4 separate regions of the Homo sapiens genome follow, and regions 1, 3 and 4 are each linked to region 2. Evidence: fine-mapped expression QTL. A gene starts in region 2. Each other region holds a variant in brackets. All regions are shown on one strand. Distances are between the middles of the regions.

Region 1 (2,688 bases), 25 kb before region 2:
TGGGTGACTCTGTCTAAAAAGAAAAAAAAAGATTCACGGGGGTTGGAAAAACAGCACAAGAGGTTCCAATATACTTCACTCAGTTTCCTCTAATAGTTAAACCACCACAAAGATCTCTCTCATGCTACTCCCCTTAATAACCACACCTACAGCCCTGCCCTCATAACCCCTGGCAACCACTAATCTGTTTAGCGCCTCTATAACTGTGTCATTTTAAAAATGTTATGTAAGTGGAATCACACAATATGTGACCTTTTGGGAATGGCTTCTTTCACTCAGCATAATAACTCTGATTAACCAAATTGCTGTGTTTCAACAATTCATTCCTTTATGCTGCCGAGTGGTATTCCACAGTATGGATAAACCACGGTTCCTTTAACTATTCATCACTGGAGGAGGCACATCAGATTATTTCCAGCTTTTGGCTATTACAAATAAAACTCTTCTGAACATCTGTGTACAGGTTTTTCTGTGGGCACAATTTTCATTTTTCTGAGATAAATGTTCAGGAGTGTGATTCCTGGAGCTAACTATTATGTACACGTTTAGTTTTTTAAGAAACTGCCAAATGATTTTCCAGAGTAGCTGTAACATTTGACATGCCCACCAGCAGTGTACATGATCCAGTTTTTCTGCACTCTCTCTAGAATTTAGTATCATCACTATTTTTAATTTTGGCTATTCTAATAGGTGTGAAACTCCCATTGTGGTTTCATTTGCATTTCACCTAGCTTAATGGCTAACAATGCTGAGCATCTTTTCATTGCTTCTTTGCCATCTGTACATCCTTCTCAGTGTACTACCTCTTCATATCATTTTTCCATTTTTTTCTTTTTTTGGGGGGGACGGAGTCTTGCTCTGTCACCCAGGCTGGAGAGCAGTGGTGCCATCTCGGCTCACTGCAACCTCCGCCTCCCGGGTTCAAGTGATCCTCTGCCTCAGCCTCCCGAGTAGCTGGGACTACAGGCATGCACCACCACACCCGCTAATTTTAGTATTTTTGAAGAGACACGGTTTCACCATGTTGGCCAGGCTGATCTCGAATTCCTGGCCTCAGGTGATCCAACCACCTCAGCTTCCCAAAGTACTGGGATTACAGGCATGAGCCACCATGCCTGGCCTTCATTTTTCCATTTTCTAATTGGATAGTTTCTTAAGCTGTTGATTTTGAGAGTTCTTTATCTAGATATGAATCCTTTGTTGAATATATGGTTTCCAAGCATTGCCTCCCAAACTGTAGGTTATGCTTCTATCCTCTTAACAGGGTCTTTCACAGAGCAAAAGTTTTAAATTTCAATGAAGTCCAATTTAGCATCTTTTTAAACACTGTGCATTTAGTGCTGTATCTAAGAACTCTTCACCAAGCCTGAGACACTGAAGATTTCCTCTTGTGTTTTCTTCTAGGAGTGCTGTGGTATTGTATGTTACATTTAAATCAATGATCCACTTTGAGGTCATTTTTATAGAAGGTTAAGGTCAAGGGTCATATTTTTGCTTG[T/C]GATTATCCAATTGCTCCAGCATCATCTACTGAAAGACATTCTTTCCTCCATTGACTTGTTTTTGCACCCTTGTCAAAAGTTGGCTGGTCTTAGTTCTGTGTTCACTATTCTGTTCTACTTATCTATATGTCTGTCCCTCTGCCAATTCCACCATCTTGATTACTTTAGCTATATAATTAGCCCTAATATTGGGTAGAATGATTTCTTCTACTTTATTCTTTTAAAAAATTGTTATAGCTATCTTAGATTCTTTGCCTTTCCATATAAATATTATCTGCTGTATCTTGCTATATCTGCAGAAATTCTTGTTGGGATTTTTGATAGGAATTGCATTAAAATAGTGTATCAATTTGTGGAGTATCTGACATTTTTACTATGCTGATTTTTTAATCCATGAATATGTTATGTCTCTCCATTTATTTAGATCTTCTTTGATTTCTTTCACTAGCATTTTGTAGTTTTCAGTATAAAAATCTTATACAAGTTTTGTTAGAATTATACCTGCTGGAGAGGATGTGGAGAAATAGGAACACTTTTACACTGTTGGTGGGACTGTAAACTAGTTCAACCATTGTGGAAGTCAGTGTGGCGATTCCTCAGGGATCTAGAACTAGAAATACCATTTGACCCAGCCATCCCATTACTGGGTATATACCCAAAGGATTATAAAACATGCTGCTATAAAGACACATGCACATATATGTTTATTGCGGCACTATTCACAATAGCAAAGACTCGGAACCAACCCAAATGTCCAACAATGATAGACTGGATTAAGAAAATGTGGCACATATACACCATGGAGTACTATGTAGCCATAAAAAATGATGAGTTCACGTCCTTTGTAGGGACATGGATGAAGCTGGAAACCACCATTCTCAGCAAACTATTGCAAGGGCAAAAAACCAAACACTGCATGTTCTCACTCATAGGTGGGAATTGAACAATGAGAACACTTGGACACAGGAAGGGGAACATCACACACCGGGGCCTGTTGTGGGGTGGGGGGAGGAGGGAGGGATAGCATTAGGAGAAATACCTAATGTTGAATGATGAGTTAATGGGTGCAGCACACCAACATGGCACATGTATACATATGTAACTAACCTGCACGTTGTGCACGTGTACCCTAAAACTTGAAGTATAACAATAAAAAAAAAAGAATTATAGCTGAGTTATTTTAGTTTTT
Region 2 (2,688 bases):
TGAGGGGTGGGGGAAAGGGGATACTTGTCTAAGTGCTCAGAATGTACAAAGCAAGTTTGAAGAGAGGTCCCTAAAGCTATGTCAGGAGGGGAGAATTAAGACTCTATTTGAGAAGCTAAAAAAAATGATTAGAGGAGTTGAGAACTGAAGCAGTCAAAAAGGAGAGGAAGGGTGAAATCTCATGGCAAGATGCAATAGGTGGGGTGGTCTGTTTCCCATGGCTAGTCTTGGTTCTGAGAGTGAGAGAACAGTGACAGTGAGGGGCAGGCATGGAGGCAGGCCCACTTCTCCCAGGAAGCAGATGTCTAGGATGATGTGGATGTTGGGGATGAGGGTCACAGGGAAGAGACAGGAAAGAAAGAAGAATGCCAGAGCAAAGAATTAGTGAGGTGGGTTGGGTCCAGCAGTCCTAGAACTCTGTGGGGATGACAACGACGTCCCTAGCTGTAAGAGGTGGAGCCTGGGGATGGGAGAAGAGGGGCTGGCCCTATGGGGACAACTATGAGGAGAAAATCTTATATGACCCTCACACCCAGGGTGTATGTGTGTACGACTCTGGGGGTGATTGCTTCCTAGAGCTTGAGTTGGGGATGGCAGTAGCGAGTGGACTATGCTGGGCCCTTCAGTAAAGGGTGAAAGGCGTGTGAACTCTCTGGGCCCATGCTAACGGGTGAAAAAAGGGCCCTGGCCTGGGGCTGAGTAGGTCAAAGCTCACTCCTGTACCTGTGCTTGGATCCAGATGTTTGGTGGAGGCTCTACTGTGGTATGAGGGCGGAACTGAGTCAGTCCCCTCACCCCGAGGCTGGGTGGTAAGGAGTTCAGACGGGATCAGGTGGGTGAGAAGTGCTCTGGGGAGCTAAACTCCTGTCTAGATTCTTTGCCATTCTATGGAATGCTAGATCCACACAGTCCTGGCCTGAGAGGCTGCCAGGCTGTGTTGAAGCGAGTGTCCGCCCTTGAGTTTACAAATCATGTTGTGCCAGCTGTGCCGTGAGGGACTCTGGGCTGGGATGGGGCAGGTGAGCAACCTCCGACCCGCAGGTTTTACCAACGCTGCCATCTGCCCCAGACCCTGCACTGGGAGAAGCGGGGAAATCGGGCGCTCTGGACCAGGCCTCCGGTACTCTGAGTTTGGGCAGAAGACAGTTCCCTCCTCCACCCTGGCCGGCTCCGTGGCGTACCTGGTCACCGACACCCAAGCCGAAGTAACCGTGTGTCACCACTTCCCAATGCAAGAAGCAGACGAGCGCGTCCTGCCTGCAGGTGATGGCCGGCGCTGCCGATGCGAACAGTACCTCCAGGCCCGCCATGAGCGCCCGCGACTTCGGCGTCTGGAGGAAAGAAGGGGGCGGGGGTAGTGCAGTGAGCCGGCTCCGCGGCCGGGGTAGCTATAACTCTGCTTCCCTCTTGCGCTGGTTCTTGCCGAGTCCACACCTGAGACCAAAATGGAGACGCCCGGGGACGGGGCGGGGCGGGGAAGCCGGAAGTAGTCCCAACAGCGGGCGCAACTGCGTGAGGCGCGCCGGGTTGGCAACGCGAGCGCAGCACTGAAAGGTTCCGCCAGGGAGTGCGAGCGGGGCGTGGCCCCTCAAAGCCGGAAGCCGGGTCTTGGCGGCAGTCGACAGGATCGCCTGACGCGGGCACAGCGTCCTCCAAGAGGCCACCTTGCTGAGAGGCAGACTTCCCATCCACAAAATGGGGTATGCTAGGCCGGGGAAGGGGCTGGGAAATGTGGCTAAAATACATTCTTAATAATCGTTAACACGTTCGCCGTGCTTGCTACCGTCCACATTATTCTAAACGCTTTACTTGTATTCATTTATTTAATCTTCACAACCCAACTCTATGCAGTTGATATTAACGATTAATGTGCCTCATTGCACAGATGAGGAAACTGAGGCGCAGAGGGATAATTTGACCAAGATGACAACAGCCAGCCGGTGAACGGCTGAAATGGTTATGGGAACCTGGCAGTCTGGCTTCTAAGATAACATTTATTAAGTGTTTATTGTGTGCTACATCGTGCGCTAAAACCTTTACATCACCCTCTCAACAACTCTATGAAGTATGGACCGTTATTATCCCCATTTTGCAGATGACAAAACGGCTCAGAGTTGAAACCACTTCTCCAAGGAGACACAACTGCTGCCCGCAGAGCTGAAGCTCCTGACCCACTATCAAATTTCAATCATTTATTTGCCTACCCCCTTTATGATTTTTACCACCCGTTACTTCAACAAGTTTCATGAAATCCACTTATTGTTTTTACCCAAATAAATTTAGTTTCCCCATCCCAGTCACTAACCTGGTTCAAGCTCCTGTCATCTTTCACTTGGATGCCTGGCATCAGCCTCAGAACTGCCCCATTCCATTCCTGTCTCTCTCTAGTCTGTACTGCACTCCGCAACCAGAGAGATTCTGTTAGAAAACAAGTCAGATCGGCCAGGTGTGGCGGCTCATGCCTGTAATCCCAGCACTTTGTGAGGCCGAGGCAGGCGGATCACTTGAGGTCAGGAGTTTGAGACCAGCCTGGCCAACATGGTGAAACCCTGTCTCTACTAAAAATACAAAAATTAGCTGGGTGTGGTGGCGCACGCCTTTAGTCCCAGGTACTCGGGAGGCTGAGGCATGAGAATCAATCGAACCCGGGAGGTGGAGGTGGAGGTTGCAGTGAGCCAAGATCGCACC
Region 3 (2,688 bases), 46 kb before region 2:
GACTGACCCTGGGCCTAGGCATCAGTTTAGTTTTCATCTACCTGTTCTCAGGCTAAGCAGATAGGCAATCTGAGGCTACAGAAAACAGCCTGGCAGATACCTCAGAAGAGCTACAGTAGCTTGCTTACCTACAGGTAAATAATAGGTCCTAATTTAGGGGAAGGAATCCAGGGAGCTGAGAAATGAAAGGATCCACATATGGTTGAAATGCTAGCTGCAGAGCGGAAGTGACTACCGCCTTGATCTCGTGCCTCTTAGCCTGGTGCTCTATCGTGCTCTTTCCACTCCAGAACAGGGCTCATCACTGCCCGCGTCTGTCAGGCCTCGGGCTGAAAAGGATCCGGAGAACACCAAAGGTCAGGTGGGCCAGGACACAAGGTGCAGGGCTCCCTGCTCCTCCCGAAGTTCAACACCACACTCAGAGGCAGCCCATGCTCCTGTGCTCTGTCTGGGCCCCATGGGGTCCAAAAACCACAGAGTTAGGCAAGAACCACACAAGGTTCAAGGGAAGTATGGCCTTGAACCATCATTCTTTTCCTCTGCCCCAGTTTATAGGGGTTACCAAACACAGAATGAGACATCAAAATGCTTTAGAGCAGGAAAGCCACCTCCAATTTCATAGGCTTGGCACAAGGCCCTAAGAGGAGAAGGAACTTGCTTAGGGTCATTCACTAAGTTAGTGGCAAAAATAAGATTAGCCTTCAGGTCTGCTCTGTTTTTTCCTTGGCTTTTTGACTACTGCTGCCCATGCACAGATGGACCTACAAAACTGGCCCAGACAGGAATAGCTGGAGGATTTTGCCTCATCAGAATGATGCAGTCTTTCCACAATGTTCCTGCCCTTGTGAAAGTCATTCTTGTGGCCTATGGGATTTCCAGTCACTCATTTCCATTCATGCAGCCAGAAGGGGACCCATCTTAGTGATGTCAGGAGCAATGGCAATTAATAAACGGAAGGTGCCTGAGAAGCAAGAATGGGCCCTGGGCAGGAAAAAGAGTCATTCAGCCCTACAGAAACTCAAACTCTAAAGTCTCATAAATGGAAGCAGCTATGCATTAATGTAAAAAGAAAAGTGGGAAACCGGCAACATGAATTCTGTATTGACATTTGGTTCTTAATAATAACATCCAAAATGCGTTCTGTTCTTATA[G/A]CACTGCATCTGGTCGAGGATATATGTTGCTGAAGGTTGCCGGAGTCTCCCTTGGGAAGTGGAGAGGAGCTGGTGGTGAAAGGGGAGGAGCTGATGGTGAAAGAGACACACTGATTTCTCTTTGGGAGCTATCTGCAGCTAGGTGGAGAGCTGCAGCAGGTGTCTTGGCTCTGATAAGGGGTGGGGAGGCTATCCCAGCCGGTCTGCAAACACATGAGCAGAATCCCTTGCCCCCAGCCTGCAAGAACATGGTTGCTGATGGGGACAGCGGTGGCAGCTCCAGGAGAATGGAGGGAAGCCTGGGATGTTACATTCTTGAGGCCTTCACAGGTACATGTCATCGTAGCCCGGCGGGGGGAGATGGTCTGGGTTAGGTCTGGAATGGAAAGAGGGGCTGATGAGTTGGAGTGATGGAGAGACCAGGGGAACATGGGCAGACATGACCCTGCACTGAGGGAGCCTGCCCTTCAACATGATGTGGCGGTGTGAGGAATTTAAACACATGCACTCAAGAGCCAGACAACCGGGGTTTGAATCCTGACTCCCCCGCTTGGTATAAGTTACCTAATCTTTCAGGGCCTCATTTTCTGCATCTATAAAATGTAGACGCCACCATCTACCCAAGACTGCTGAAGAAAGGATCCACTGAGTTTCTGCCACATACTTAACTTTCAAGAATTGTTAGTTCCTCCTACTTTGAGTCCTCCCCAGAGTGGAGCTGGGGAAAGAGAGGCACTGAGGGATAGGAAGCTCCTAGAAGGCTCCAGGGAGAAATCAGGCAGGGCCCTGGAGGAGGCTCCACTCTCCTGGCAGCAACAGGTGAAGGCAGCGGCAGCTCTGTGCCTGGGGCTAGAAACCTTCATTGCTGCCACACTGAACCAAGCTGCCATCAGGTCCTACTTCTCAGCATACCTGAGTGACTACGTACCCGGGTGGGCTGGTCCCAATGGGTCCAAAGGGGTCAAAGCGAGCTCCTGGGGGCACAGCGCCTGGAGGAAGTCGGTTCGGGAGGCCTGAGGAAGGGTCAATAAGTGCTCTTGGGAAGCCAGATCTCAGGGGATCCACAATCATGCCACCTCTCCGAGGCCTGAGGCAAGAAGAAAAGTTAGGTAAGCAGGTGTGGCAAGGACTGCCCTTGGAGAAAAGGCGAGGGAGGTTACAATGCACCAAGAATGGCTGGGATGTCTACTCTGGATGGCCCAAGCAGACATGTGGATGGCTGCCTGAGAGCCAGCGGAAAGTGGGCAAGGGCAAGAACACAAAGCCTATACGAAGAGCATACCTCACAGCTGAGTACTTCTGGCTCTGCAGGGGTTGGTTCTGCACAGTGCTTTTGGTTCTGTAGGGCTCCTCAAAATTGAGATCCCTGCCATATCATATACTCAAGAGGGCCAACTTGATCAAGACCAAGAGCCAGAACTTGCCAAGGTCAACTACAATGCACTCACAAGGTTCTGCAGGGTGCTACTTTAGGTTTAAGGACTAATTATAGCATTGAGGTAATTCGTGATGTTGGTTTTTTTTCTCTTTCCCTTAA
Region 4 (2,688 bases), 30 kb after region 2:
ATCCTCCTTGTCATGTTGATTGGCAGGGAGCACAGAAGACAGTTATGCCTCACCTAGATTCATACATCTCCCCACCCAAGCCTGGGCCCATCATCTCTTCCTAGAACCGTTGCCCTTCCAGGCTCACCCTTCCACTAGCTTCTTCTAATTTGGCCTCTAAATTACTAACAATGTGCTTTGTCTGAAACATGTTCTATTCAGGCCACTTCACGAATTCAGGGAGTGGATTAGTTATATATGACCACATGACAAATTGCAAACCATAGTGGCTTAAACTCAAAGTTGACAAACTAAAATCCTCAGGCCAAATCTGGCCTGCTGCTTGTTTTTGTAAATAAAGTTTTGTTGGAACACGGCCACACCTATTCATTTATGTATCATCTATAGCTGCTTTTGCAGAGTTGAATTATCGTGACAGAGACAAAAATACTTCCTTTTAGGCCCTTTAGAGATAGTTCATTAACCACTGGCTGTACACAACAACAGTCATTTACCAATCTGTCATGGTTTCTATGAGTCAAGAATTTGGGAGCAGCTTGACTAGGTGGTTCTGGCTCAGGACCTTTCATGAGGTTGCAGTTAGGTATTGGCTGGGGCTATGCTCATCTGAAGGTTTGACTGGGGCTGAAAGATCCACATCCAAGGAGACTTACTTACATAGCTGGACAGTTGATACTGGCTATAGGCTGGGTGGGGCCTGTGTTCCTTTTTACATGGGCCTCAACACAAGACAGCTTAAGTGTCCTCATGGCATGGTGACTGCTGTCCTCAGAGTGAGCAGTCTAAGAGAACAAGGTGGAAGCTCAGTGCCCTTAGGAGCTAGATTCAGAAGTCACACGCTGTCACTTCTGCCATATTCTACTGATCACTCAGGCCAGTTGTAATTCAATGTAGAAAAGATGACACAAAGGAATAAATACCAGGATGTGGGATAATTTGGGGCCATCTTAGAGGCTGGCCACCATATGGAAGACAAAAATCAATGCTTCCATGAGCATTTTGGCTCACAGATGTGTTTTGTTAGGCTTGTACCATGCTTTAAGTTGATATTTTAAAATTGTGAGATTTCACAAAATATCTAAAATATTTAAATTATTCCACATTTCCACATGTGACAATAGGATGGAAGTGAACAACAACTTCCCTCTTTGCAAGAGACATAATTCTTTCTAGTTTACCACAGATCCCACCATTC[C/T]TGACTGTATCCTTAAAGGAGAAAATGAATTTCAGTGATTATTAACAATTATCCTTGGGTTGTTTCTTACTGTAAAGAAATACTTCCCTGAAAGCTCTTCTATATCAAAAGACGGCAAAGAAAAGATACACTAAGAGAATCTCCCATTTTAAAAATAATCAAGGGGGACCGCATTTCTTATTAGGAAAGAAGAATGTATCTGTATATTTAATATGCATAAAAAATGTGTGTATTTTAAACAACCACAACCAAGACTTGTAAAAATATTACTGCTTAGCCTGTTGAGGCCGATCTCCTTCCTGGCATTAAAGATCTTCTGTATTCTGGTCCCTCCATACCTTAAAGGCAATATGGCATGAGGATTAAAAGTTCAGATGCTAGGATCAGACTGTGTCAGTTCAAGTATCAGTTCAACCATTCACTAGTTGTGTCCTCAATTTTATCATCTCAGAAATGAAAATCATAATAGTACCCATCTCAGGGGGTTTTATGGCTACCTTTTCAGCTCCATTTTAAGCCCTGCCAGTACTCTAGCTACCCGAACACTCCAAACTATTTTATCCCTCTGTGTCTGTGCACATTCTATTTCCTCTGTCTGCAATTCACATGTCCTGCTTCTCTGCTGCAAAGCTCAGTCCACAGTGAGGTGGCTCTTCACCAAACATGTCTGTATCTCCCAGACACAGTGTAGGATACTGCTTATTGGCCCCCCTGTAGTTGGATTGAGGTTATGTGATAAGAGCTGGTCAATGAGTTGTGGGTACAAGTAACACATGTCTCTTCCAGGCTGGAGCATTTAACAGCAGGTTTGAAACCCTTGAGAATTCTCTCTTCTTTAGGCCTCAGCAACTGGGCCCTGGAGTAAGGATGACGATGATGGTGTGAGCAGAGCCACAGCCAAACCACGACACGTGTGTTGAGCAAAATATCTACCTCTGTGGTTTCAGACTTCAGGGTTGTAACAACAGCATTAACTGGCTTACACTTACTCCTACATCTGCTCTCTGCGGCTTTCCTTAATCCTCCCAAACATGGCAACAGTACAAACCTCTATTGACATATGATCCCCTTATGCCCTGTATTAAATAACTGGCTTCTATGTATCATGGTGCCTACAGGCACTGTTCCCTCCTCAGAGTGGCCTTCCCTAAGTACCTATTGTAAAGATGATCTCTTTCTCCTCGCTGGATGAATACTCAGTTTATTTAGTTCTTGGTACTTTATTCTTAACAGCAATTGTTTTTATTTATTTAATTCTTGTCTGCCTCTCCCATTAAACAATAAACTTATAGCCCTGGAGCTTAGCTCAGTGTTTGATCCAGGGATATTAGTAAATGAATGATTGATTGAATGAATGATCAATGAAAACTGTACATCCAGTGTTTAGCATGGTGCCTTGTGAGACTGAGTGAATGAATGAATGAATGAATGAATGCATGGCCCCTGGTACAACTCAACAACTCACCCACACTTAATCATATTTGCAAGTTTCC

Which allele goes with the higher level. Alleles are on the strand shown, and positions count from the first base shown. SD is a standard deviation of normalised expression in the study named. Not every link is listed here.
For the expression in lymphoblastoid cells of the gene that starts at base 1,482 in region 2, T is the high allele of the variant in region 4 and C is the other (small effect, 0.32 SD a copy in GTEx).

Evidence for each region. PIP is the estimated chance that this variant, and not a neighbour inherited with it, causes the effect.
Region 1: its variant is fine-mapped to the expression of PSMF1 in whole blood (TOPMed, PIP 0.99).
Region 3: its variant is fine-mapped to the expression of PSMF1 in nasal epithelium (TOPMed, PIP above 0.99). The same link has a PIP of 0.9 or more in lung and pancreas.
Region 4: its variant is fine-mapped to the expression of PSMF1 in lymphoblastoid cells (GTEx, PIP 0.97).

What each region holds. Positions count from the first base shown.
Region 1 is chr20:1,142,242-1,144,929 of GRCh38, reverse strand. The region is part of intron 4 of PSMF1 (proteasome inhibitor subunit 1); the gene reads right to left. Among named protein-coding and RNA genes, the nearest start is that of PSMF1, 25 kb to the right of the region's middle. The variant T/C (reference allele first, on the strand shown) is at 1,499.
Region 2 is chr20:1,117,396-1,120,083 of GRCh38, reverse strand. PSMF1 (proteasome inhibitor subunit 1) reads right to left here and starts at 1,482. Exons shown (of 7, transcript NM_006814.5): 1 at 1,182-1,482. The coding sequence starts at 1,310. LOC105372493 (a long non-coding RNA gene) reads left to right here and starts at 1,636. Exons shown (of 2, transcript NR_136535.1): 1 at 1,636-1,700; 2 at 2,096-2,232. RefSeq lists enhancers at 1,210-1,339, 1,380-1,569, 1,580-1,629, 1,640-1,689, 1,089-1,731.
Region 3 is chr20:1,163,868-1,166,555 of GRCh38, reverse strand. PSMF1 (proteasome inhibitor subunit 1) reads right to left here. Exons shown (of 7, transcript NM_006814.5): 6 at 2,080-2,238; 7 at 1-1,527. The coding sequence ends at 1,476. Among named protein-coding and RNA genes, the nearest start is that of TMEM74B, 20 kb to the left of the region's middle. The variant G/A (reference allele first, on the strand shown) is at 1,152.
Region 4 is chr20:1,086,968-1,089,655 of GRCh38, reverse strand. No RefSeq gene overlaps it. Among named protein-coding and RNA genes, the nearest start is that of PSMF1, 30 kb to the left of the region's middle. RefSeq lists an enhancer at 2,564-2,688. The variant C/T (reference allele first, on the strand shown) is at 1,196.